Regions from separate parts of the Homo sapiens genome. Here region 2 is linked to region 1. Evidence: fine-mapped expression QTL. Tissue or cell type: whole blood. Region 1 holds a variant in brackets; the other region holds the start of a gene. All regions are shown on one strand. Distances are from middle to middle.

Region 1 (16,409 bases):
AAAAGGTGGAGGAAGGTTGAATTTGCTCTGCCTGCTTGAGCTGGGACATCAATCTTTTCCTGTTCTCAGTGCTCCTGGTTCTCAGGCCTTCAGAATCTTCTGAAATTCCTTCTGGAATCTAAACCATCAGCTCTCAGGCCCTCAAACCATACCATCAGCTTTCCTGGGTCACCAGCTTGCAGATGACAGATTGTGGGATTTATCAACCCCCATAATTGTGCAAGCCAGTTCCTTATAATAAATTTCTTGTAAAAGACTTGTACGAGGCTGTTCAGAGTACAACTGCACATAATCGCTACAAACTGAAGCAATTCAAATTCCACCCTCAGTAGAATAGATAAGATATATTGAAATACAAAAATATAATCACATATTAGGTAAATTATATATTATTAATTATATATAAACCATGTATATAAATTATGTACAATATATGCATGAATAAATTATATATTATATAGAATATATGATATATTACACAGCTATATCATTACATTGTGTTGTATAATACATAAATATATTATTATACATATCTATATATTTAAGTGACACTTATATCATGCACATGGCATATTACAGAATGGAATCCAATGTGGCAATAAGAATGGATGGACCATGCTCATGAGCACCTGGGTGAATCTTACAGCATGGACATAGCATGGTGTTGGAGGTGAGTCAGACACAGAAGGGACACTGTGATCCAGAGACAGAATCAGAAACCAGCCACACTAAGCTCGGTGGCCACACTCTGCCACCCTGAGTGTCTTCAGGCTCATTCTCAGGAGGAGTTAAACTGCAGGAATGGGCCAGGGCCTGCTTGTTCTCCTCCCAAGTCTCTGGTTCTATTTGGCTTTTTCAGCTCTGTGCATCCATTACCTTGGTGAAAATAAACATTAGTTTAAAAAAAAAAACTAAGTAAATCAACTCAGGCAGTGCAGGATGCCCAAGGAGCATTTGAACAGAGCTGTCTATGTGTCAGGCAGCCCCAGGGAAGACCCAGGGAAAGCAGCCCTCGTGGGTAGGGCTGGGGCAGAGGACACCCTCCCAGGCACCCACGCTGCAGGGGCTGTGGGTGCTGCCACTGCCCTTATGTGGGTCCCGTCCTTTAAACCTCATTTTCAGAGCTCAAATGAGGGAGCCTGGCAAGACGTACCTAGAGATGCACGTGTCAGCCAAGGGGCCACTCTGGGAACTCAGTCTCCTGGGAGGCTTGAGGACATGAAGTTTATGTTTTCACAGAAAAAGGAGAATCAAGCTCTTCCCCAACAGACACAGGCACACATATGCAAGCACACATACCCACAGACATGCACACACACACGCATACATGAAGAGGCATGTCGACACACGTGTATGCATACATGTGAGCAAACATGGACGCAGGCCCACATGTGTGCGTGCTCATACACACATGCACAAACTCAGACACACAGCACATGCAGGCACATACACATGCCCATGTGCACACACGCTGGCTGCACCATGCATGTACTCTAAGGGGCAACGTGGTGGTGAGGTATTGCAGTGACCACGGCAGAGCAAAGAGGAGGGAGAGAAACTGGTGACCCAGGTCCTGAGCAGGGCAGGGTGCTGTGTGGCACTGCCCTTCCCTCTAAGACATCATCCTTTCTGGTTCACCGAGGGGACAATGGAGGCCCCTCAAAGTGACCTCAGGCCTTAGCTCAACCCCAACAGCTAAGAGGACTGGAGACCAACACAGCACTTTCTCATCTTTCTTCCCCTGCACGCTGTCTAACCAGCCTCTGTCCCCACGACACCAGCTCCTGCATGCCAATGCCCACCCCTGTGGTCCACCAGAGCAAGGAGAGGCAGCCAGGGAAGGAAGGTGGTAGGTGACAAGGACAGGCAGCTGCCTGGCGTTGGCAGGCAAGACGGGGACAGGAGCCACCCTGCCCCACCCACCTGCCTTTCATTACCAGGTAAACATCTGCCTCACTTGACACCCCACTTCAACCTCAGCAGCTGTGAGGCACCAAGAACCTTAGAAAGCCAGGGCCCTGCCAACAAAAAGGGCTTGTCATTACAGAGCCCGTCCCTCTGCTGGTGACCTGCAGACACCGGGTGGTCCCTGCACCTTCCCCGCTCGCTCAGGGAAGCCCTCGCCCCCATGCCCATCACCCCACTGCACACACTGAGGCTCAGGCTCCCCAAAAGGCATGCGAGGGAGCACCCCAGTTGGTGGAACGGAGCCTAAAAGAGTATCCACCCGGTCACTCAGCCATCTCTGACCACAGCTCCCCACCACAGGATCCCATCCCCTAAGGCTTTCCCTGCCACCAGGGCCCTGCTCTTCTTGGGGCCTCACACTCACCCTTTGGAGTGTAGAAGGGACCAGCAAGCCTAAGTGGGAGAGTCTGCATAGAGGGAGCCCCGCTGGACATAGGCCCACATATGCATCTGGACATAGGCCCACCTATGCATCTGGACAGAGGTCCATGTGTGCATCTGGACACAGGCCTATGTACGCACCTGGACATAGGCCCACATATGTGTCTGGACACAGGCCCCACGTATGCACCTGAACACAGGCCCATGTATGCACCTAGACATAGGCCCATGCATGCATCTGGGCCCTCCTTGCGGCAAATATAGCATCATTGCCATTTAAGGATCCAAGAACTGGAAATGACAATTGCTCCAGAATTTGCCAAGAGACTGGAAAGGAGATCAAGGCTCAGCTCTGCCTGCAAAGCCCATTACCCCAGGGATGAGGAAGGCAGTGCTGCAGGCTTGCCGGTGGGTCTCAGGACAGTTTTCCCTTATTTTATAGGTCAATCTACTCCTCAGGAGGCTACTGCCAGACACTCAGTGTTACATCAATGCTGTGTAATAATACTAGCCAGGAGAGACCAGACTCACTGTGCCTGCAGGCTGGGCCCAACAAACAGGCTCACAGGGCCGTGGAGCAGGGATTGCTTTAAAAGGAGCAGTGTGTACAGGGAGTGGGGATGCTGAGGGTGTTTTTGCACACCTACTACACTCAGGAAAGTGTCTTGTGGGATGAGACAGGAAAATCTAAGACCTCTGCCTCCGAAGAGCTTCACGTCTAGGAGAAGGCAAGGCCCTCAGGCACAAGATAACAGCAGCAACCAACCTGGGCCCAAACTGGCAGCTCCTGGTTACTTGAGGAGTCCCAGCTCCCTTGGGCTCGCAATGGCTGTAGGCGAGGGGCTGCTCCTGTCAGGTCCCTGCAGCTACCTGCACAAGGTCCTGTGCATCTTGGTGCTTGATGTTGGCTGAATTTAGCAAGATAGTCTCATTTGGTTCCAAATGGCCCATCCCTGTTAATGACCACTCCCAGAGGGCTCTGAGACGCCACTACTAACTATGAAATTCATAGTTCAAGGACAAAAACAGGTGTCCATGTGGAACGCTCTGAGCACGAGGGTTGAGAGCCAGTTTCCATCTTGGTCATGAGCCACTGCAATGTTAGGAACCAAGTAAAAAGGTATGCCCAAGTTATTTTTCCTGCCATAGATTATAAATGACATCAGGGCATGGAAACACATTGTGTGCTTTCAGAAGAGCAGGAATTGCATTTTCTTCCCCCTCAACATGATAAATCCCATAATAAAGAACAGCCGGCCCTGAGTAACAGCCTGGAGGAATCTGGTTGCCAGGCATAACCCAACGACATGTGTCTTTCTGGTCTTGATCAAATGTCACTTATTTACAACAAAACTACCCGGGCTTCTCCTGGGCTCTGAAGACAGGAAGCCAAGGGAGCGCCTGGATTATGGCTCAGCACTCTGCAAAGGCCTGTCCTGCCCTTGACATAGCAGCAACTCTAAAGAGCTTTCTCCTGGTTGGGCACCTCACTGGGAACAGTCCCCAGACGCCCTTCCAGCAGGCACACTGAGCCAAAGCAAAGGCCCAGCGGCCATCAGCATCACCTTCCTGCATCAAAGGTCTCGCTGGTCACTTGCTGATGTTCTCTACGGAGACTCCATGAGCCTTCTGAAGCCCATATGGGGAGGCACAGCCTGCAGGGCACTCGGCTTCCAGATTAATTGGAAATCAGGCGCAGAAATGATCACAGAACTGAGATGAGCTCTCCCCACTGTCCTGGGTCAGGGTGGAAAGGCTGCCAGGCTGTACCCTGCCTTCATGGTGGAGGGGCAGTGAAATCAACACAACCCAACCAGAAGAGGAGGCCCGCCACCTACACGCTGGCTGCCTGGGGACAGACAGCTCAAGCCAGTGAGCCTCAGCCTACACACTGATAAGAACAGTTACCAGTTTTCAGAGAACTGTTGAACACATCAGATAAGGTAACTAATAAGGTCCTGGACCATGCATAAGTCAATATACAGTAGACATTTCCCAAACGTCTTTTCTTATATTGCTTTCCTTATTTAAAACATGCATATACACATATGTATATATGTGTGGTTTTACATATATATATATTCATTGTAAGAAAAAAAAAGTAAAAGGCAAACACAGAGAAGCAAAAACAAAAGAGAAAGAAGAGAGAGGAAAAAAAGGAGACCACTTTGTGTTCTCACCTCCCACATCTAACCGTTTCTAGCAAGTTTGTCCACTTCCTTCCTGCCTTTTCTCTGCACATAGACACACCTACATATGTGAGGGGTGATGTGTGCTCCAACTTCCATATTTTCATGTAATATTATGCCATGGATAGCTTTGGATGCCATTACGTCTTACTCTCCAGTGTTACGTTAAATGCCTGTATTTTAAATCCATTTGCTACGGATGCACCCAAGCAACTTAGCTCACACCAGTGCCGGGATCCCCTTTTCTTTTCCTGTTTGTTCACTCTGAGACCCATCTTTCAAAATCACCTTCTATCTGATGAAATCACACTGTGCACTCAGAACTTTACTCAGATGATTGAGTAGTTTGTTTTATTTTGCTTGTGATTTTTTAATTCCTTCTTCTGAAATTGTAACACCAAATGGGATAAATAATAATGTCCTGGAAATTGTATATGGATTCCTCCACAACTGAGAGCACTCTCCTTCCTGCACGCTCGTCAGGCCTGCTTCATGGGGTCCCAAGGATATCTCCCAGACCTGCTATCTCCCACCCTCTCCCCCTTCCTCTTGGCCCCACTTGGGACCTCAGACCTCCTCAGGACCCTGCACTTGTCTTTGGGTTCTTTAAAGTCAATCACTTTATGACATCCTCAGCCCCTGGAGGTGGTGCCCTCCTTCAAGGACTTTCCTTCCTGGTGGCTGAAGGACAATTGGTGCCTCTCCTCACCTGCTGGCCATTTGTGACCCCCCTGGCAGGTGTGGGTGTCCATAGAGCTGAGACAACCAGGGGTCCCTGGGGGCTCAGAGGGTGTGAAGCAGGGCAAGGTCTCGCTGCCATGGGGCACCATGAGCACATCCTATACCTGAGGGCAAGGTGAGGCAAGGCCAGAATGCCAGCGCAGCCCCAAGTGTGCCAGGTGGAACTTGACAGCTGTCAACAGAACAACAGTTGTGCGGAAACTGGGACATTTATCACATTTCCACTTGCCTGACAAGGTAAAGACTGCAATTTTTCATCTAAAAAGGAAATTAGAACTCATTGCCTTGATTAAATATTCTGCACTTATTTACACCCACAACCCCAATAAAACTCAGACACACACAGGGTCCTACACACACACACACACAGCCTTATACACTTGTACACACACAGCCCTAAACACACACCAAACCTACAGCTCTACACACATGCACACACACACAGCCCTACACACACACAGGCCTATACACATACACACACACAGAGTTCTATACACACACACACCACCCTACACACATACACACACAGTCCTACACACACACGCAGCCCTACACACACACGCCTACACACACACACAGAGCCCTACACACATACACACACACAGCCCTACACACATACACACACACAGCCCTACACACACAGCCCTACACACACACACACAGCCCTACACACGCACACACACAGCCCTACACATACACACACAGCCCTACACACATACACACAGCCCTACATACATGTACTCACAGTCTCACACACAGCTTTCCATGCGCAGGTATGTGTGTACACCCTAGAACTGTGTGAGCAGGAGTGTGGTGCGCAAAAGGCAATGGTTTTTCCATCTCCCATGTCCTTTTTAGTGCTGTCCATTTCAGCTGTCATAAATTATGACCTGAGCTAACGCATGCAAAGTTATTAGGTTACCATGTGTTCATATATGTCCTGTGTGAGCCGGAGCCATCCAGCCCCCACAACACAGACACCCCCACACCCTCATCTGCAGGCAGGACTGGCTCTCCGCCCCCTGCTGTCAGCATCTCAGCTCCTTCCGCAGACTCTGGTGCAAGCAAGCAGCTTAATTATTTACAACAGGAGATTCCCGAAAGAGCCATCAATCCTTCCATGGAAAACCTCCACAGACGGCTGGCCCCTGGGAGGCTGCGCATCCCTCACCTCAACTCTTCACCTGGCTGCCCCATCAGCCCAGACAGTGACCCCGTCCTCGCTAAGCCCCACCTCAAATCAGACATAAGGCCCTCATGGACTCTGCCCTTGCTGCCCCCACCCCACATACTCTGGGCCCCCCTTCCCACATGAGCAGGAAACGCAGCTTTTAGTATCCTGGCAGTGGAGGGTGGAGTGGGGGCAAGATCTGGGGTCTGGCATTCGACCCCTGGATGGAAATCATGAGTGATTCTGATTATTCCTCTATGAGTTTCTTATTTTCTAACTGACAAATATTATTTTTAAAATTATTAAACTACAATGGATAAACATTACTTTATTAATCATAAGACCATCACCTGATGAAAATTAGGCAAGAAAAGGAAATTGAGTTCTGAAAACCATTCGAGAAGAGAGCTAAAAAACAGAGACCAATCTAGCTATCACATCAAAAATAGGACCCAGTTAACTGGTAGAAGGCATTTCTGACAAGCAGCAATGAACGCACAGTGCACAGGGGGTCACATGGCAGCTGGTAAGAATCTCACTGGACTGGGTCACTCCCAAGGCCCACGCTGTCCTCCAAGGCAATTTACATTCCTCTCCATCATCAGCCATGTGGATTTTTCATTAAAACAATGGCTGCTGTTCCTGGATGACCTGTTACAAACCATAATCAATCAACCTCCTCCCTAATGTCACAAACTGCCACCGCATTACACACTCCAGGAGAGATGCCAGGTTTGACTGGCACAGCTCCGGGCAAAGCTATCTGCTTGGCCCAGGAGAATCCTCTCCAGCCCTGCTTGACCCTCTCCTCAAGCCCATCCTTCCCAGCACAGAGCCACAGACACTGAATCAGAGGGACATCAGCCTGCAGCATGCTGTCCCAGACTCCGTGTCTTGCCAACCACCTGAAATATCACCACGATTTTGACTGTCACCATGGCAACTGGAAAGTTCCAGGGAAGTTGGCCCGAAGGCATCTCCCAGGATGCACCCCCAGCCTCCTGATGTGCAGCGCTGTCTCCTATGTCTGTTCAGGCTGAGGACTTGGTGCAGGGCTGAGGATGCCTATGCTGGAGTCCACCAGCCTCGTGGGAAGCAGCGTGCCCTCCTGCTGTGAAGCTGTGGGTGAGTTTCCCTAGGGGTGAAGACTAGATAATGTCCCTATGTCAGGAGTGAGGAGCATGCCTGAGAGACTACAAGAAAGGCTTTGTATTAGTTGGGGTTCTGGAGGGACAGAATCAATAGGATATATGTATATATATATATGGGAGTTTATTAGGGAGAATTGGCTCACACAGTTACAAAGGCCAAGTCCCACGCTGGGCCATCTGCAGGCTGGGTTATGAAAAAAGTCAGTCCAAGTCTGAAGGGCTCAAAACCAGGGAAGCCAACAGTGCAGCCCCCAGTCCTAGGTCAAAGGTCTGAGAGCAACCAGGAGGCTGCTGATGCAAATCCCAGAGTCCAAAGGCCAAAGAACCTGGAGTCTGATGTCCAAGGACAGGAAGAGAAAAAGCCTCCTGCTCAAGAAGAGGGAGAGAGAGAGAGAGAGAGAGGGAGAGTGCTGGATATCCATCCTCCTTCCACCTGCCTTGTCCACCTGTTCACCCCCAGCTGACAGAAGGGCGCCCGTCCACATTGAGAGGGGGTCTTCCTCTCAGTCCTCTGACTCACAGACACACCCAGAAACTGCTTCACCAGCCATCCAGGCATCCCTCAATCCAGTCAAATTGACCCCTTTTAACCATCACAGCCTTCATGCCATCATTGTGAACTGCTGGGCCTGGAGCCATAGTCCGCCCAACACCAGGGTGACTCCATCCCTATGCAGTATGGTGAGGGACAGGGCTACCTGGAAGTGATAAAGCAGCTCTCATCAAACAGGAACTATTGACTCACTGGCACTCCCAGAGCCTTTCAAGCCAGAGAGCCGACGGTGGCAATGACAGAGTGTGGACTGCACCCAGCACTTATGAAGGGGCTGTTGTGTGCTGAACAGAAACCTTGGTCAGGAATTCCAATTATAAATGGCAACCTTTGTCACTAGCATCATTACAAGCCATCCTTGTTCCACTGGAGTTCTC[G/C]TTGCACATGGAGCTGGGCAGCTGCATTCCCCTGCACAACACAAGAGGCAGGTGGGCCAAGACCCCAGCCACTCAGCTGGAAGATTCTCTCCCATCTTGCATATTGCCACATGGATAGCTCAGAGAGGTGGCATTGTCCTTCCCATTCTGCAGACTACAAAACTAAGTCTCAGAGAGCTCAGGCAGCTCTCAGGTCACTAGATAGCAGAACTCAGATTCAAAGCCCTTGTCATTAGTGTTGTTGAATAAAATACGGACAGCCTAGTTAAATTTGCATTTCAGATAAACAGCAAATAAACTTTAGTATAACTATATCCCCAATATTGCATAGGAGAATATTTTTGTTGGCTAAGCCTGGCAACCCTGTTGCAACTGATGTGTGCTCTCATCACACGGAAAGCAGGTGGCCACTCATAGGCTAGGATGCCCATGCTGGTTGCTGGCTGGGGCTGAGCCATGGAGATGTGGAGGCCCCAAATCCTGGCCATTTTCAGGCCATCTGCACCACCGTGGAAAATCTGCCGGCTCTGGGAGAGATGGTGCTTAGCAGAGAGGCTGTGAGCCTGCCACATGAATGGCCACCCCTTCTGGGCACCAGGTCCTGCTGTACTCCAAGTGGGGACCATGGAAGCAGTTCACGATCCCTGCAAGGACTCCAGGCCCCAGAGGGATGCAGGCTGACTCTCACCACTCAGGAACAGTGCTGTTCTCATAGCTAAATTGGAGGATGATTCTTCTTCTGACTCAAGTCTGGTCCAAGCATGTTCACACACCTAAGCCCACCATGTCCAGCAGAAAGCATGACCCCAGAGATAAATGGGATTGAACCCCTGGCTCTGTGTGCACCCCTTTTTGTCTTTCAGGCCCTGACAGTAGAAGCTTCCTGGACCCATGAGGGAAGGATGGCACCCAGCTAGGAGCAGAGATTCACCCAGGGGCCCCCAGAGTTGCTTTTCTTGTTTCATGGATTCCTGGTTCAGTTCTATTCCTGGCAGGATAAAGTGTTTTTTCCTTTGGTGTTTTTTTTTTTTTTTTTTTGAGATGGAGTCTTGCTCAGTCACCCAGGCTGGAGTGCAATGGTGCGATCTCAGCTCACTGCAACCTCTGCTCCTGGGTTCAAGCCATTCTCCTGTCTTAGCCTCCTGAGTAGCTGGGATTACAGGCACCTGCCATCAAGCCCAGCTAATTTTTTGTATTTTTTTAGAGACGGGGTTTCATCATGTTTAGGAGGTTGGTCAGAGTGGTGGGAGAAACTATAGGGAAAGGAGCAGGCCTTCTGAAAGGTCAGAAGGCTCTGCATAGTTTCGGGGGAGAATAGCTGAAGACAGCTGTTCTCTAACCCTGAGGCAGAGGGCAAGGAGTAGGTACAAGGGATTGTAGGGAAATTTATCTTAAACAGGCTTGTTTACTTATGTTGGCCAGGAGCTGACCTGTGATCATCCGCCATAAGTTCCATAAGTTCCCTGAAAGGGGAACAATAAATGTTAATTACCCACAGATTGTGTATTGCTTCAGGCTTTTAGCATTGTGCCTGCACTCAATAAAAGCAAGCAGCTCCAGCTTCTCGAGGATGCTGTACTTTGGCCACTAGAGCCTGGAAGTCCCCTAGCTGCTCTTCCACTGCATACCTGTGTCTGAGTACCCCGTTCATCCGTCGATTGGCCAGGGTCTGTGGGACAGACCCGGCAAGCATATTGGCTATGCTGGTCTTGAACTCCTGACCTCAGGTGATCTGCCTGCCTCAGCCTCCCAAAGTGCTGGGATTACAGGCATGAGCCACTGTGCCCGGCCCAGATAAAGTCTTTAAGAGCAGTTATTGGAAGTTTTTCATTGTGTTGCCTGCTAATGAGAAAACTTCCATTCCACAAAGACCTCCAAGCATAGAGATTAGTAGACAAAAAGCTAACTCTCCAGGACAATCTGTTCGGCACAGAAAAGTGCATAGAGCTGGCTTTCAGGGCCAGTGATACAGGAATGGCCTCACCGGCTGCTTCTCAAGCACTATGTGACTGTAGCTGCCCTCAACCTGTGCTCTGGAGGAGGTGATAAAGGGCAGTTGTCTCTGTGGACCAGCAAGAAATTAGACAGTTATCCACCTGGTCATTCAACCTAACACCTGAGACAGAATAGTCACCCAAACAGGGCATCTCATTTTCTGAACTACATCACTGTTAATTGTAAAAAGTCAATATACATATATCTATGCAAATTTATTATATACACATAACTACTGTATGTATTATACACATTACAAAACATACACCAAAACTTTTAAAAGATAAGATAAACCTGAAAGACTATTTCCAAATGTTCTGCTAAAAATGCTAGCTTAACTATTTACAATAGCCAAGAGATGAAATCAACCTGTGTCCATCAAGGACACATAGGATAGAGAAAACATGGTGCATATCCACAATGGGATGCTATTCAGTCATGAAAAAAGAATGAGATCCTGTCATTTGCAGCAACATGGATGAGCCTGGAGGATGTTATATAAAGCAAAATAAGCCAGGCACAGAAAGGGAAATACTGCATGATCTCACTTATATGTGGGAGTTAAAGAGCTCATAGAAGTGGAGAGTAGAATTGTGGTTACCAGAGGACAGGAAGGCTAGCGGGGAGAGGAGGATGGGGAGATGTTGGTTAACGGGTACAAAGATACAGTTAAAAGGAAGAATAAGCTCTGGTGTCTGCTGCACAGTAGGGTAACTGTAGCTAACAATAAGTTCTTGTATATCTCCAAATAGCTAGAAGAGAGGCATTGTGAATGTTCCCACCACAAAGAAGTAATGAAGTTGTAATGGTTATGCTAATTACCCTGATTTGATCATTACACAATATATACATGTAATGAAACATCACATTGTATCCCATAAATACATACAACTATTATGTGTCAATTAAAATTAAAAAATAAGTTTTTTTTAAAAATGCTGGCTTAATACTGCATTAGCTAACACTCCATGAGCAGCATACCCAGGGCATGGTTTGTGTTGACAATGCTGGTGTCAGTCTCTCTTTCAAACAGTTTCTTGCTCTTGTCATGTGCGTGGGGCTCCAGTGAGATCTACAGTGTCGGCTCTGCCATTGTCTCATTGCCAGAGAAATGATTAATAGAATCTTTATTCTGCCATCTCTTGGCAGGAGTATTATTAAGCTATCTGTCCCTTACATGATGGGGAGAGTAGTCACAGGGCTTGGGAAAAACAGGGGCTGCCGGAGGGCAGGTGCACACTCAGTATCAGCACAGGGCAGGGTTCCTGGTTTTTAGAGAGAAAATGAAAATGCTGACATTTTCTCCTGTGCACCACCCCCAAACCCGGGAATCACGAACCCTTCACTTGGGAGTCCTTGGACACAGCAGGTAGCAGGTACCTGAATCTCCAAAGCCTAGAGGATGACCCACTCAGATATGAGTGCAGTCTAAAGGAGCAGCCTCTTTCTCCTTCCACATGATACCTGAGAGTGAGACCCACCATCCCCATCACAAATACACCATTGGTTTCTGCTCCAGCTCCCTGGAGATGAGGGAAGGATCAATTCCCGAATCACTCAGCAGTCTGTGGGCTTGCTGTCCTGGTTATCTCTGTGCTGGGCTCCTGATTCTGCAATACCATCTCTGGCCTTCACTGAGCAGCCCTGAGGCTCACTCTGTCACCGTGTCCACAGATGTCCACCACAGCCTTGCTGACCTCTGCAACCCTCCTTGTGACTCCTCTCCCTGTGTGACTTCACTCGGTATACAAAAGCCTGCATCACCGCTCCCGTTAAGAGCAGCTGAGCCTGTTCTTCACTTTGTTTATTTTGCTTAAACCTTTCCGTTTCCATGCCCCACCCTGAGATTCAGATCAAGGTGTTTTTCTATTGTGACTTCCCTATGGTAGCCAGCCTCTCCCTCTTCATGTTCTGTGTAGTCCTGTCCCACATTGAATAGGGCTGACCAGTGTCATCAACAGACATCACAAACATGATTGTGCCTGACTTCCAAGGCTAGCTCATAAAACATTGAGTCTTCTGCCTTGCTCTCTCTGGGATTCCTCACTCTGGAGGAAGCCAGTTGCCATGCCATAAGGACGCTCAAGCAGCCCGGCAGAGAGGTCTGCATGCCTCCCACACACAAGCAGCACCAACTGCCCAGCTGTATGAGGAACTGCTTGGGAGGTGGAACCTCCAGCCCCATTCATACCTTTAGATGAGACAGCGGCCCCAACCGCTCAGCTAATTGCTTTCAAATTCCTGACCCACAGCAACTGCGAGAGATCAGAAATGCTTATTGTTTATGATTCTAAGTTTTGGAATAGTTTGTTATGCAGACACATTGAAGAATTCTGACTACCCAATTAAGAGAATGAAAAGTGCGTATGGCAACATACATCCATAACTGCACACACTTATGCACAGATATTTGAATCAGATTATACTAAACCGTATATACTATTGAAGGTATACTAGCTGCTGCTGTAATAACCAAATCCTAGCCTCCACAGCTAAACAAAATAAAAGTTTACCTCTTGTGCGTATCTCCATCCATGTGGGCGCTCCTGTTTGGGTGATTCACCTCCCAGCAGGGATTCCTGGACCCACTCACTGGGCAGCTCCACATCTTCAATGGTGACTCTCTTCAATTCAATGGGCAGATGGCAAAAGAGACTGTGGGAGTCACATCCACTTCTTAATCCTCTGGACCAGAAGTGACACTCACCCCATCCACTCATGTTCCATTGGTGAGAACCAGACACTTGGTCCTCCCTAGATCACAGTCCATGGGTGCTGAGGAATGGGGTCCTGGCTGGGAGCCACTCCCAGCAATAAGTCAATGCTGTAGAATCTTTTGTAGTTAGCTACCCATCCCTTCTATGTTCTGATTCATTTGCCTTTTATTAATTAAAAATATATTCTGGATATATTATGGATAGCCTTTAAGATGGTCACCTCCCCCATGATCCCTGCCTCCTAATATGCACTCCGTTGCATAATATCTTCCCCTGGAACACAGACTTGCTTCTAACCCATAGAAAGTGACAAAGATGATGGGATGTACATGATTATGCTCCATAAGATGATCACATCAGTCTTGTTAGGAGACACACTCCCTAGCTAGCTTGGAGGAAGCAAGTGGCCACATAAAGAGGGCCCCTGTGACAAAGAGTTGAGGGCAGCCTCTGGCCAACAGCCAGCAGGAAATAAGGCCCTCAGTCCCACAGCACACAAGGAACTGAATGTTGCTGACAACTATGTGAGTGAGGAAGCAGGTCCTTCCTCATTCGAGCCTCAAATGTGACTGCAGCCCCAGCCCACACCTTGGTTGTGGAGGACCAGCTAAGCTGTACCTGGACTCCTGACCCACAGAAACCGTGAGACAATAAATGCTGGTTGTTTCAAGTTGCTTAGCTTACAGTTATATTGTTAGCCTTTGATTACTAATTTAGGCATCTTCCCATATCTGGGCATACTTACCTACTTCTCTTTAAAGCTACATGTATCCCAGTGTGGCTGGGCCATGCTGTATTTAACTTGGGACATGCAGATGGCCTTCTTTATTTTCTACCATTGTATACAGCATGCAGGCACATTCGTGGATCTTGCACTCCTGTAAATATAGAAATGACTCATAAATGTTCTCAGCTAATGGGACTGCACCTGTAAAATTGTGACACACCTATTGCCAAATTGTCCCCCAAAAGGAATATCATGGCGATAGGTTGAGTTTTAACCAGAAAAAAATGCTGAGCAGAACATTCCAGTTGGAGGAGAGTGACTGGGCCCCGACAGATGCCTGGAAAGACCCAGGGCCCCTCTGGGAGAAGGAACCACTCAGGCTGCCTCAGAGAGAGAGCAAAGAGGAGGGAAAGGGCCTAAATGGTTTCACTCAGGAGCCCTTGAAAACAGGGTGAGAAGTTGGAAAATAAAAGTGGGGGCTGTGACGGACTGGTGAATGATTTCCTCAAAGTTGGAAAATTAAGAGTTGATGCCTTTGCCCCTCACTCTCACCAGGTGCAGATCCCCGTCCCTGGAGCTGGTAATGAGGGTAGAAGCTCTCCACTGGACCTTCTGATTTGTTTTCCTCTTATGCTCTCTCTGGGGGAATCATCTGGGTATAGGAAAATGAAATTATTGGGTCAAAAATCATATAAACTTTGAGTAGCACATCCATACAAATATATTCAAGGAGTTTCGTGGAAGGCTTTGGAATCTCAAAATTCCAGTTTTTCTTCTTGGTTAAATCCTCCCACGAAGTCAGCCAGTCCTGGGTCGTGGACTTTGAAACTCAGGGCAAACCAGCAGCATTGGAAGCAGGCTCTCTGCTCCTGCCCTTGTGCTTCCTACCCCAGCTGGGTGAGGCGCTGCCTGGGGCTCCGGGCCTGGCTGGTCCTCTTCGCCGTGCGCCCCGCTTTGCCCTCCCCACTGCACAGCCGGAGGACCTGCTGTCTTGCCATCTCTTCCATGTCCTCTCCTCTTCCTCATGATTCGTGAAGTCATGAACACTGAGAAATGGAAGAAATGGTTAAATCTTTGGAACCAACTACTTCCGCTTTTGTCTTTGTCTCCTCAGAAATTACAGATAACAATTCATAAGGCAAATGTGTCATTAAAGGAAATGGCCACAGGAACCCAAACCGCTGTGAACTCAAGTCACCAGTCACACTCACACTGTCTGGGGCTTAATGGCCCCACTTTCCACAGGGACGTTCACACCTAAGCTTTGAAGTCACCTCTCCACCTGGACAAATGGGAAGGCGCCTGTTTGTCCACCACCCTGTGCTGTGGAAGGCGTGTTCAGAGCAGGCCTTCTGAAGAGAGTCATTTTTCAAAAACACAAGCGACAGTTTGCGCCTCCAGCAGCGCTCCTCCTCCAGTCTTCACACCTGCATCCCCTATCTTCTCCACTTTCCGGTGTCTCTCATGGCTTTCTCCTTCCATCTGTCCTTAGCCTTCTTGTCAGTCTCCCTACAGCAGCGAAACCCGGGCTCAGAGGGAAGGCACTGAATTTTAGGAGGCTCCGGCGTTTTCCCCCCAAGGCAAAAAGACAGCCTAGCTTCCTGGATGCATCCCAGCCTTTTGCTGATGTTAAGGGGATTGCTTGAGTCTTCAATATCTTAAAACTTCAGTAGCTGGAGTGGAGATTTTGGGGACACGAGTGGAAAAGCCAAACACACAGCAGCAGCGCATGTCACACATGCAGTCAGAGTTGGATGGTCAGACCCTGAATCCCACTCAAATGAGGCTGTCTTTCTCTAGTGACTCCAGGTAACCATGGAGACATCAGCAACCCAATCAGCCTGAGCTCTTCCATTCCCAGAATGAATCTGACCCTGCCAGAGTCTCCATCAGACCAGGCGGAGCTCATCCAGGCTTTCTCTCAGGGGGCTGCAGCCGAGACTGAGGCCGGGCAGGGCCATCTCAGTGACCTCTTCACTCACAGGTCCAGCCCCAGGCGGTGGGGACAGGACAGCTGAGCCAGCTCCCACTCTCTCTCTCCTATATCTCTCTCCCTCTCTCCTACATCTCTCTCCCTCTGTGTGTCTCTCTTTTCTCTTTGTGTGTGTCTGTCTCTGTCTTTCTCTTTTTCTATCTCTTTCTGTCTCTTTCTGCCTCACTCTGTATCTCTCTGTCTCTTACTCTCACTCTTTCCTTTCTCTGTGTCTCTATCTCTGTTTCTCTCTCTCTCCCCTCTCTCTTCTCTCTCTCCAACTCTGTCTCTCCTTTCTCTCTGTGTGTATCTCTGTTTCCCTGTCTCTCTTCTCTCTCCTCCTCTCTGTCTCTCTCTTCTCCCTCTCTCTGTCTCTCTCTCTCTGGGTCTGTCTGTCTCTCTCTCCTCTGTCTGTCTGTCTGTCTCTTTCTCTCTGGTCTTTCCATGTGGTTTCTCCACTTGGAGTC
Region 2 (10,904 bases), 33 kb after region 1:
GCTACTCCTGCACCTGCTCAGCATCACTGCCTGGTCTGCGCACAGCACTGGTGGTGGCCTCTTACTGCCTGTTGGAAGTTGTAACACACATTAAAATGTGTGTAGAGACTCTATTAGAAAGTCCAAACACGAGGTCAAAATTGTGCCCAGAAAGAGCACATCCAGTGAAGAATAAACTTCACTGACCTGCCCTGTTTCCTCCTCCATAACATGAGGACAGCATGGCCTGTCCTGCATATTTCTATGAGAAACTCAAGCTCTGGTGTTGTCAAGGACAGAACTCAGCCTGCAGGCAGCATCTGCCCCTCAGGAATGCTCCACCAGGACTTTTGCTATGTTTGATATTCAGTGTAGAGAGCAGGGTGGGGGATGGCTCTCCCAAGCCAGAGCAGGGGCCCTACTGAAAGTTGAACACACCATCATTTTTAGTTACAGACACTTCTCTTTACTTCTTTGCATTTTAAAATTTTCTATTGAGGATAAATTCTAAACATTAAAGTGCAGAGCTCAGTGAATTTTTTTTTTTTTTTTTTTTTTTTTTTTGAGACGGAGTCTCGCTCTGTCGCCCAGGCTAGAGTGCAGTGGCGGGATCTCGGCTCACTGCAAGCTCCGCCTCCCAGGTTCACGCCATTCTCCTGCCTCAGCCTCCCAAGTAGCTGGGACTACAGGCGCCCGCCACTACGCCCGGCTAATTTTTTGTATTTTTAGTAGAGACGGGGTTTCACCGTTTTAGCCAGGATGGTCTCGATCTCCTGACCTCGTGATCCGCCCGCCTCGGCCTCCCAAAGTGCTGGGATTACAGGCGTGAGCCACCGCGCCCGGCCAGTGAATTTTGACATATGTATACACTCAGGTAACCACCACCCAGGTCCAGATACTCAACACTTTCAGCCTCCCACTGTGCCTTCTCTAATTCAGAACCTACCTAAGAGTAACTGCTATTCTGACATTGATCCCTTTGTTATGTTTGCTGTTGTAGAACTTCTTATGGACAGAATTATACGGTAGCGGCTCTTTTGTGTATGTCTGACTTCTTTCAGAATTATGTCTAAGAGACTCACCTTTTTGCTACGTGGAGTTCTTTCCCTTTTTCATTACTTTGTAGTATTCCATAGGGTGACTTTACCACCAGTTATTTGTCTTTCTACTACTGATAGACACTCGGGTTGTTTCTAGTTTGGAGTCACAACAAATGAAGTTATCATGAGCATTCTTATATATGTGTTTTGGTAAACATATGCACTTATTTTTGTGCATTCTATCCAGAAGAGGAATTGCTGGGTTATAGAGCATTTGAGTATTTAGCTTCAGTAGTATTGCTCTGTATGTTCCAAAGTGGCCATACTATTTTACACTCCCAGCGAAGATGTATGAGAATTCTAGCTGCTCCACATCCTTGCCAACACTTGCTATTTTCAATTTTAGACATTCTAGTAGGTGAGCAATTTTCCACTTAAATGTATAGTAGCACTAATGACACTACAGTGAGCATGGCACTCACCTAGTTGTCCATGAATATCTGTTTTTCCTTTCCTTAATATATTAATTACAGACTTTTAGCTGGTTACATAGTCACTCAACTAGCAGCTACATTTCCAACTCCCCCTTGCAGCTACATGTGGGCCCAGGACTAAGTTCTGGTCAATGGTATGTGACAGAAGTGATGTGTGCTACTTCCTGGTATTGCACTGAAATCTATTGATCACACTCGTCCTGGCCTATGAAATCTATTGATCATACTCTTCCTCTTTCCAGCTAGATGGACGGTAACATCCAAATGGGAGACAGCAAAGCTCCCCACCAGTCCTGGTCCACATGTCTACCTCTGATAATGTTATATAAGAAATGAATAAACTTCTGTCTCAGTCAAACCACTGGATTTTTATCATAGCAGGGAATCGTGCATCCAAATAAACACTCTGTGATTGCTCATTTGCCCTCTGACTTGAACACACCTGGGCACATGTTGTTTCTATTTGCTTAGCACTCATCTGTGCATTAGGGAACTGCTCTCCCACAGCCCTGCAGTTCTGTGAGATTGTGAACTGTACCTGCTGCAAGCATATGCATGTGGCCCAGGTCTGACCGGTTGTGGTTTCTCATCCTTCTCTGGAATTTTGGGTAAATGGGATTGGCATGAGAGCCAACAGAGCCAATCAAAGTTCTTCCATGAGATTTGCAATATAAAGAGAAAGAGTCTTTGTCATCATTTTAGAGTTTGGTGGCCAGGAGCCTTGTGACAGGAGAGGATAAAACCAACACCCAAACAGAGCTAGGGCCAATCAGAGAGAAAGAGGGAAAGAGTCAGAGAGCCGAGAGAAGAGGGATATTTAATAATGGCATCCAAGTCCCTGGATCTAACTGTACCTGGAGCACCTTTAGACGCAAGTGAGCCAATAGTATGAGCTGAATTTCTGTCATTTACCACCAAGAGTCCTGTCTCCTTCATTAATGCTATAAACATGTTTGATGGCAACTTTATAAAGCACTATGCAAGATGCTGGAGATACAAGGTCCCTTTCCTTTAAAATAGTAATTCTTAGTCTGATCAACTTTGAAGGGTCCATCCAGATGGAAGGATGATAAGAAAAGAATTACATTTTTTTCCCCACTAACCTCTAACTGAAAGGAAGCATTTCCTTCGGGTGTACATGCAGGCAACAAACACAGCCACATCAGCAGTATGTAAGGACTTCTCAGCAGAAATCACAGCGATTCTCACATCACATCATGCTCGTTACAGACTTTAAAATATCGGCTGACTTATCATGACTTGGAAACTACAGCTATCAGATCTGCCGCCAGAGCATATTATTAAAAAAGAAGCAAGTAGATCACATTTTAAAGTATTTTGGTAGCTGGATTTCAGTATAATTCATTTCCTTTTGAATCCTGTATTTGACTTTATGCATTTAAACACATTACTCTGAAAAGAGTTCTGTAGACCTCACCACTCTGTGAAGTTCAAAATGTAGACCAGAGAAGAAAGAAAACTATCAACAAACAATTATAATGGAAGCTGGTGCAGGCACCAAGGAAGTGACGTGTAAGGTGACATTCGAGCTGAGGAGCAGGGTGGGGGATATTAGCTCTGCCCAGGGTGCATGGGTTTGTGTTGGAGGAAATGATGCCAGGGCAGAGCCTTGACACATAAGTGGGTGTCTGCCAGCCAGCCAGGGATGCGAAGAGGTCCATGGTCTGGCAGTTGGTGACAGCAGTCACCTTAAAGGTCAGAAAGGCATTGCTGGGGCAAGTTCACTTGCTGGGGCAAGTCTAATCCAGCAGACACCAGCACTGATTAGATCAATGGTCAGATGGGGCCACATCAGCATCCTGTACACTCCCCAGTATGACGAAGGATGGCTTGGTAAACCATTCTGCATGTTCAGTGATGTGGGAAGTGCTGCCATGAGTGTGTGCACCAAAAATGGATTACACCCCTTCACCAGATTTATCTAGCACTTAGTGGTTTGACAGTTGAACGCTGTGCAGGAGCACAGAGCAATGATAACATCTCAGCACGGCCTTCATTTCTATGCTTCTGCTGGTGTGACCCCACGTTTCCAAGTGTGGCTTTAACAAAAAGAGCTCTGTGGGTCCTGTGGGGGTCTCAGTGGCAGTAAGGACATATGAGGGTGCTAGAGGTGCCTGGGGATCTCAGAGCCTTCAAAATCCCTTTCGGCTTCCTTCATTGACATGTTCTAACAATCAGGGTGCCTGACAGAGACCGGTGTGGACTCTCTATTTTGGAGAGGCTGGCCAGGAAGGCCACACTCTTACCAGCCTTTTCTGGGGTGCGGGGAGGAACAGAGCTAGGAGTAGGAGTCACAGCATGGTCTTGGCAGCCACTGCATGGTAACAGTGGAGGTGTGGCTCACCCACGTCTCTGCAGAGTGTGGTCACATTCAAAGGACATCTCCCCGGACTTTTCTAGAAGCTGCTGGCAGGTCCCAGAGCCAACCTTCCCACAGTCCCTCAGAGGACCCCGTTTCTCCACTTGCTGTGCTGACTCTCTCTCTAAGCTTAGCCTGGACACTCTGCATGCCACTACAGGTGAGAGGCGGCAGGCCGACTCTTTCTGAAGACACCTCCTCCACTGCGTAAGGCTCCACACTGGGCGATCTGGAAACGGCTCCCAGCCCACTACGTGCCTGTTCCCTCCTGCACTGCAAAGTGGAAGCAGAGGATCCTCTCTCCTCATATCCACCTGGGCCGTGTTGGAAGCTGAGTATTATTTGTGCTGCCATACTTGAGTTTTTTTCTCATATGGGACTTAACTATTATCAATCCAGTTACTATGCTCATATGCATATAGATGGTGTCAACATTCTGGCTGGGAAATGCAGAGAAACTTTGCAAAGCATGGTCTCAGTATCCAAACACTTGGCATTTCTGGGGAAACTAGGAAATAGATTGGTTAATATGATCTTTGATATGCTTGAACTTAATATTGGAGGGGAAAGTAAGGGGGTGAGAGGTAAGGCAAGATTGGAGTTCATTTAGCTACTTTTATTTTTATTTTTTGAGACTGAGTTTTGCTCTGTCGCCCAAGCTGGAGTGCAGTGGTATATGATCTTGGCTCACTGCAACCTCCGCCTCCCGGGTTCAAGTGATTCTCCTGCCTCAGCCTCCTGAGTAGCTGGGATTACAGGTTTGTGCCACCATGCCCACCTAATTTTTGTATTTTTAGTAGAGACGGGGTTTCACCATGTTGGCAAGGCTGGTCTCGAACTCCTGACCTCAGGTGATCCGCCTGCCTCAGCCTCCCAAAGTGTTGGGATTACAGGCGTGAGCCACTGCACCCAGCCTGCTACTTTTATATCTATGTTTGAAATGTCCCACGACAGAGTGTGAAACAAGAATAAAAAGGCAAGCTTGGTCACTTTGGGAGACATAGGCAATCATGCTGAGAGAAGGGAACAGGGAAGAAGGTCAGAGAGGAGGGAAGAGGAAGACCTAATAATGGCATCCAAGTCCCGGTTCTAATGGTACTTGGGGCATCTTTGGATGCAAGTGAGCCAATAGTATGGGCTGAAGTTCTATCACTTACAACTAAGAGTCCTGTCTCCTTCATGAATGCAATAAACATGTTTGGGGGCAATTTTATATAAGCACGGTGCAAAGAAGCCCTTGTGTTCGCAGCCTGGGCATTGCGGAAAGCTTTTTGGAGTTTTTACTGAATTCTCTCATGTTCTTCTGTATGCATTAGGAAACAGGCTAGAGAGGACAGTATTCTGGAAGGTCATGATGCCAGAAGTGTGGGCCCCAGGACAGCCATGCAAAGTCTCTTCTTTGCCCTGGGCTGCCCTCTATTAGATTCTGAGCATGTGGGTCTAAAAGCCAGGAGAGAATTCAGCAGTTGTTGAGAAGCATACCCCTCTGCTGCTGGTCCCCTCCCTGCAGTGTGTTCCCAAGGTGGCCCCAGGCCTGTCTAGACGCTGGCTGTGAAGGGCACGCTCCTGTAGGGGCAGCCGGCTCTTCCACAGTGAGGTCTGTCAGAAAGCGCCCACGATAGGCAGGAATCCACTTTCTCATCTAATTTCCACCCATCTGTCCTCATTCTGCCCTTCATAACACCACAGAGTAATCCTTCTTCCCGGGACAGTTTTGCACATATTGGGGTTCTTCTGTCTTGTGCTCCACACATTGATTTTCTAGGCTGAAGACTCCCGGTGGGTCAACTCCCCTCCCACGGGATACTGCTGGCTGCCTTAGACACCAAGCAAGGGCATGGTATTCTAGATGTGTCTGACTAGTGAGGAATAAAAGAGAGTCCCCCCACCCCACCCCAATCAGTGCAATGCTTGCATGTGTAGATCCTAAGCGTGCATCCCTCCTTGGGTATAGAATGCTGTTAAACCAGTTCTGTCCTAATCCGTTCCCATTATGTTTCAATCCAAATGGGATGTGGAACATGGATTCATGGACCCCTACAATTGGAAAAGAGCTTGGAAAAGACTTCTCTAGTTTTTCCTGTAATAGTCACCAGCACTGAACCCGAGCACACGGTGCAGTGGGCTTTACCTGCCATTCTCTCTCCGTGCTCCCCAAACCCTCCAGGACGACCACACTGTCCTCATGTTGCAGGGTACAGAGGTTTGCTGAGGCCTGAGGTTATTTGGAAACTGCAGAGCTGTGAGTCAAGGGAGTCTATCAGATTCCAGGTCTGGATTCTTCAGCAAGAGGGTGGTGGCTGCCATGCCGTAGAGGGAGGAGGGGGTGCGTGCTCCACCCCACCCTGCTTGACACCAGCTTTGCCATCTTAGCCTTTGCTGGGCCGAAGCCCTATTCTCAGAGCTCCGGCACTGAACCACAGAAACCACAGGAGGCCCTAGAACGGAACTCTGAGACTGTTGGGCCTTTAACTCTGTGACTGTTGGGCCTGGGACTGGCTTCATTTGTAAACTCTGGCTCTCAGAGCCAGTGCTCAGCAGGAAAACAGCCTCAGGGCCCCTGCCCCTCAACAGCAGTCTGTAGTCCAGGGAGGTATCACCTGGCCTGGAGAGGGGCTCCCCAACTCCTCACATTTAGGGGAAATCTTAGCTGGTTCCGTAAGAAACTGTGTCCCCTTCTCAGGACTGTGTTCCTCAATAGGCCTCCCAGCCTGGCCAGTCACTGTGCGAGCCCTGTCACCTCTCCTGGGGGCAGAGGGAAGAGGTCTGGATGGAGCAGCACCATCTCTGAGGGCCCCCAGATCCCCAAACCCATGGGCTAGTCACAAACAAGTCTCACCAGCAGCCTCACAGGAGGACCATTTGCCATACAGAGTGGAAAATGATGAACGTTTGGCAAAAGGCTAGCACGGGGGTTCAGGGAAACCAAGACTCCAGGTGGTGCCAGCCCCTCCCCTGGGGAATGGGAGCAGCCTGGTGTGAAATATTCTTGCCCAAAGTCAGCAGCCAAGTGTTCTGGGTGCCACGTGCCTCACGCACACTGCAGGTCAGGTTCTCAGAAGAGCTGGCCCAGGGTCTGGGGGTGAAAAAAAACTGGGGGATTTGGGGGAGGCCTGGAAAGGGTGGGGTTCATCCAGGACCCCAGAAGGGGCAAGCTTGTCTATTGAGAGCTGGTGAGGAAGAGGGTGACAGGGCACCTCTTGGTCCTGGGAACGGGTGCTTGACTCAGCAGAGACCAACCCAGGGCTGAGGGACAACCCTCTGGGCCTGGCGGGGAGGCAAGAGAGATGGGAGGTGAGGAGGAAGGAGTGGGGAGCAAAAGTGGGGAGAAGGGGAGAGAGGTGGAAGAGTGTTGCGAAGGTGAAGAAAGAGGAGGAAAAAGAGAAGGGAGGAAAAGAAAGGTTGGGGGAGGGAAAGGAGGGAGGTGAGCAGGGGCGAGGAGGAGGGAGGAGGAAGGAGGAAGAAAGGGGCGGGGCCATAGGAGGGAAGAGAAGAAGGGGGAGAGGAAGGGGAAGGGAAAGGGGAGGAGGCGGGAAGGGAGGGGGAGCGGAGGAGGGGCCTGCGCGCCCGCCCCGCGCACTCCGTCCCCGCGCCGGCCTCAGCGCTCTCGCGCGCCGCAGCATCCCAGCCGCCGCTGCCGCCGCCGGGCCTCCCCGCCACCCCCTCCCCGGCCCGGCCGCCTCCCGCCGCTGCCGCCGCCGCCGCCGCCGCCATTCCTGGCGCCCGAACTCGCCCGGCCGGGAGCCGCCGCGGGCAGGACGCGCGCTGCAGGTAAGCGGCCGGGCTGGCGCGGGAGGGAGGGCGCGCGGGGCCGGGCAGGTGCGCTGGGGGCGGCCTGGACCCTCCGCGGAGCCCCCACTCCACACCCCTAGGCTCCTCACCGGACCCTCGGGGCCCTCCCCGAACCCCTGCAGGAGCCTCCTTCTGGGATCCCCGGACCCCTGGACTCCTTCCTGGATCCCCCCGGGGCCCCTCCTGGGACGCCTCCCAGAGACACCTACCCGGACCCCTCCGACCCCCTGGACCTCTCTGCTATCCCTCCCCGGCCTTCTCCCCTTCCCGGTTGCCTCCCCAGTCCCTGCGCGCAGGTGGCTCCTCTGGGCGCGGGGGAGCGGGGGCGCGCTGCATACCCGGGCCAGGGAGGGGGCGGTGCGCTCGGCCAGGCCCCGTCGCGCCCCGGCCCGCCCAGTCCGGCCCCGCCAGGTCAGGCCCCACTCCGGCCAGCCGGGCTCTGGCCGGGCCCCCGCGGGCTTCTATTTTGGTCGCGGAGGCCGCGGACCCTGTGCACTGGACCCGGCGCCGCGCACTCAGACAGGTGGGGCAGGTTGGGCCGCAGTGGTCAGGTCGCCGCCTTGGCAGTGAGTGCTGCAGGCCTCGGTTTCCTTTCGGGTTTTGGTTGCATTATTCTAGAACAGCCCAGGAGAACCACAAGCCTTAGCTTGGGCTGCACCTGTTGCAGCCGCCTAGTGAGCTGCAAGGGGCTGGCTCTACTGGGGTTATGCCAGTAAAAACGTGTAAAGGAGAGTTGAACTCGTGGTTGTCCTCTATTTTCTGGCTTAGTATTTTGGGGGGTAGGTGGGAGAGTGGGTGAATGGGAGTCTGTAAGTGGGCAGTTTGCGTCAAATGAGGCCTGGTGTCGAGGGCTGGGTCCTGCTTTCCGGAAGGTTTTCCACATGAAGTTGCTTTGCTTTTGTTTTGAAAACCTCACTCTGTGTTGAGCACATCCCAGGCTCGTGGGTGGCCAGGCCCCCGAAGGCCAAGCTGGACGTGGGGCCTGGGGCCAAGCATCTCACCCTGCTGTTCTGAGTCTTTTCAAATCCACCAGGCGCCACGGAACGGAAGTTTCCTTTCCTGGGGGTGACGTGACACCAGTGGCCTGTCACCTCATATGTGTCCTAGGCCTGGGGCCTGCCTGCTGGCTGCCCAGGCGAGGTTATTTGGGAATGTTTACTGTGTCCCAGAAACAGGCAGCTCTGGCCAGTGCAGGGGCAGGATTCTGGTAGAGATGATAATGCCCTGATTGTCATTTTGACAGTTGGTGTCTGCGTATATCATGTCTTGGTAGTCGTCAGCCAGAAGAAGAAAGCAGGCGGGCTCAGCATACCCACCAGGGAGGCTGGGGTGGGAAGATGAGGGATGCACTGGCCTGTTTCTGTGAGCAAAGACTGCCCTCCCATAAGGCCAGACCTTCAGACTGAGAAGAGTGTACGTGGTACACTCAGCGAGTCAAACAAAGAAATAGAAACACATCACTGGTGCCAGGAGCAGCCCTGGGGTCCCAGGAGGGTGGGCCGCTTAGGAGTTGGTAGACGGTGGAACTCAGTGGCTGTATTTCAGAGTGCAGACAGGCAAAAGGCCACCGTGGGGATGCAGAGCCCCAGCTGCCATGCCAGCCCAAGGTCTTGCAGCACAGCACAAGGGAGGGACTCCATGGGAGGGGGCCCACCTCCTGAGAAGCACACCCAGAGTCTGTTGAAAATGCAGCCTTGCACAGACCCCCCTGAGTGCCTGGGGTCCTGGGCTGAGGTTTAGAGTGCAAGACCAGCGACCATGTTGCATTTGATATCCAGTGGGTCTGGGGCCAGGGAGATGTCCTTGGTGACATCATCCACTTGTGGACAGTCCTCTCCATGTGGACCGCTGGAGGCAGATGTTACCTAGAGCCGCTTTCCCCACACCAAGCGGGTGTGTCTAGGCCAAAGCTTGGGAGTGCACGCTAATGGCCAGCTTTGACTGAGGAGGGAGGGAACGTCCGCTGCTGACAGCACAACAGCAAAATCAATAATGCATTGCAAAGATCAATGGTTTTCTCTATCTTCTGTGCTTCTGCATTGAGGCTGTTCAGGCTTCTGCCTCTCTTGGTTCCATTTCTGTTGGGGAGGGAGGGATGGGCGGGTCCAGGAGGGTGGTTGCAGATTCTCCTCCTGACCCCTGGAGCCAGAGCTCCAGGGTTGGAGCTAGGACCCATGGGGATGAAACTTGCCACGTGAAAATATAGAAATAAACGTGCCGTCGGCTGATTGTCGAGCCTAGTTGCTGAGAGAAAGGCTGCTGCCTGCTGTTCCCAACCAGGGCAGTTATTTCTTCTTTGAACTTGGACAATTCCAGGAAGAAGACTAGAAGGTGAGAAGGGAGGTGGCAGAGGCAGCTGGGGTGGGTCCTCTCTTCCCTGGGCCAGGGTCCGCCCTGGGCTTGGCAGGTGCAGTTCCTCAGCCCTGCCCATTGCATCCCCATCCCCATCACCATTGCCGTCCAGGGTCCAGGGCTGCTGGAGGAGATAGCTGCTGATTCAGTCAGGTGGAGAGGGTGTGCCAGGGCCTTCCCTGGAAGCTGGGTGGTGTTTTAGGTGCACTAGTTAAGGCGATCCTTGGGATAAGCAAATTGCTTTGCTGCTTGTGGGTCACTTTTCAGCTTCTGTGACCCTCCCTGAGCGAATTTGCCTTTAGCTGGGGGTGTCACAGCAGGGGCCCCAGCTTTCTACTGCCTTGCTGCTTCCCCTGGGGCATCAGCAGCCGCCTTCCCACAGCACCTGTGCAAACCTCAGTGGGGGGCAGGCAGGGTCCTGTTATTTGGTCCAGAAGTTTCAGATGCTGCCCATGAAAGCAATGACTGCATCCCTGCCCTGGATCACATCTAAGTGGCACCCCAAGATTTCTGGCTTCGATCAAAGCCTGATCCAGGCTGTCACTTGGATCAGCATTTGATCCAAGCATCACTCCTTTGAAAACTAGGCTATTGATGTGTCTCATGGACATTTGTGGAGTGAATGATGATTTTAAGGAATTCCTTAATCACAGCATCGTGGTTATGTTAGAATAACTTTCACCCTTTAGCAATAGATACTGAGTGTTGGTAGATGAAATGATGTTTGGGATCTGCCTCAGATTAGTGTGGGGTGGGGAAGCAGAGGGGATGAGAAGGGGCGAGATGGTCTGAGTGGACAGTTTGGGGTCTGGATGAGAGTACCTGGGTTCTTTGTTCTGTTCTGCCTACTTGCATGCACTTTGAAAA

Evidence for each region.
Region 2: it holds the start of SEMA4D, and the variant in region 1 is fine-mapped to the expression of SEMA4D in whole blood (INTERVAL, PIP 0.96).

Annotation. Positions count from the first base shown.
Region 1 is chr9:89,524,604-89,541,012 of GRCh38, reverse strand. LOC105376137 (a long non-coding RNA gene) reads right to left here. Exons shown (of 3, transcript XR_930102.3): 1 at 14,523-16,409; 2 at 13,989-14,121; 3 at 9,551-13,181. Among named protein-coding and RNA genes, the nearest start is that of SEMA4D, 35 kb to the right of the region's middle. RefSeq lists enhancers at 1,252-1,421, 1,789-1,958, 5,090-5,259, 8,590-8,759, 8,592-8,761 and 1 more and a cis regulatory region at 1,873. The variant G/C (reference allele first, on the strand shown) is at 8,532.
Region 2 is chr9:89,494,679-89,505,582 of GRCh38, reverse strand. It overlaps SEMA4D (semaphorin 4D), which reads left to right and starts at 7,470. Exons shown (of 16, transcript NM_001371194.2): 1 at 7,470-7,664. RefSeq lists silencers at 7,381-7,570, 8,001-8,150.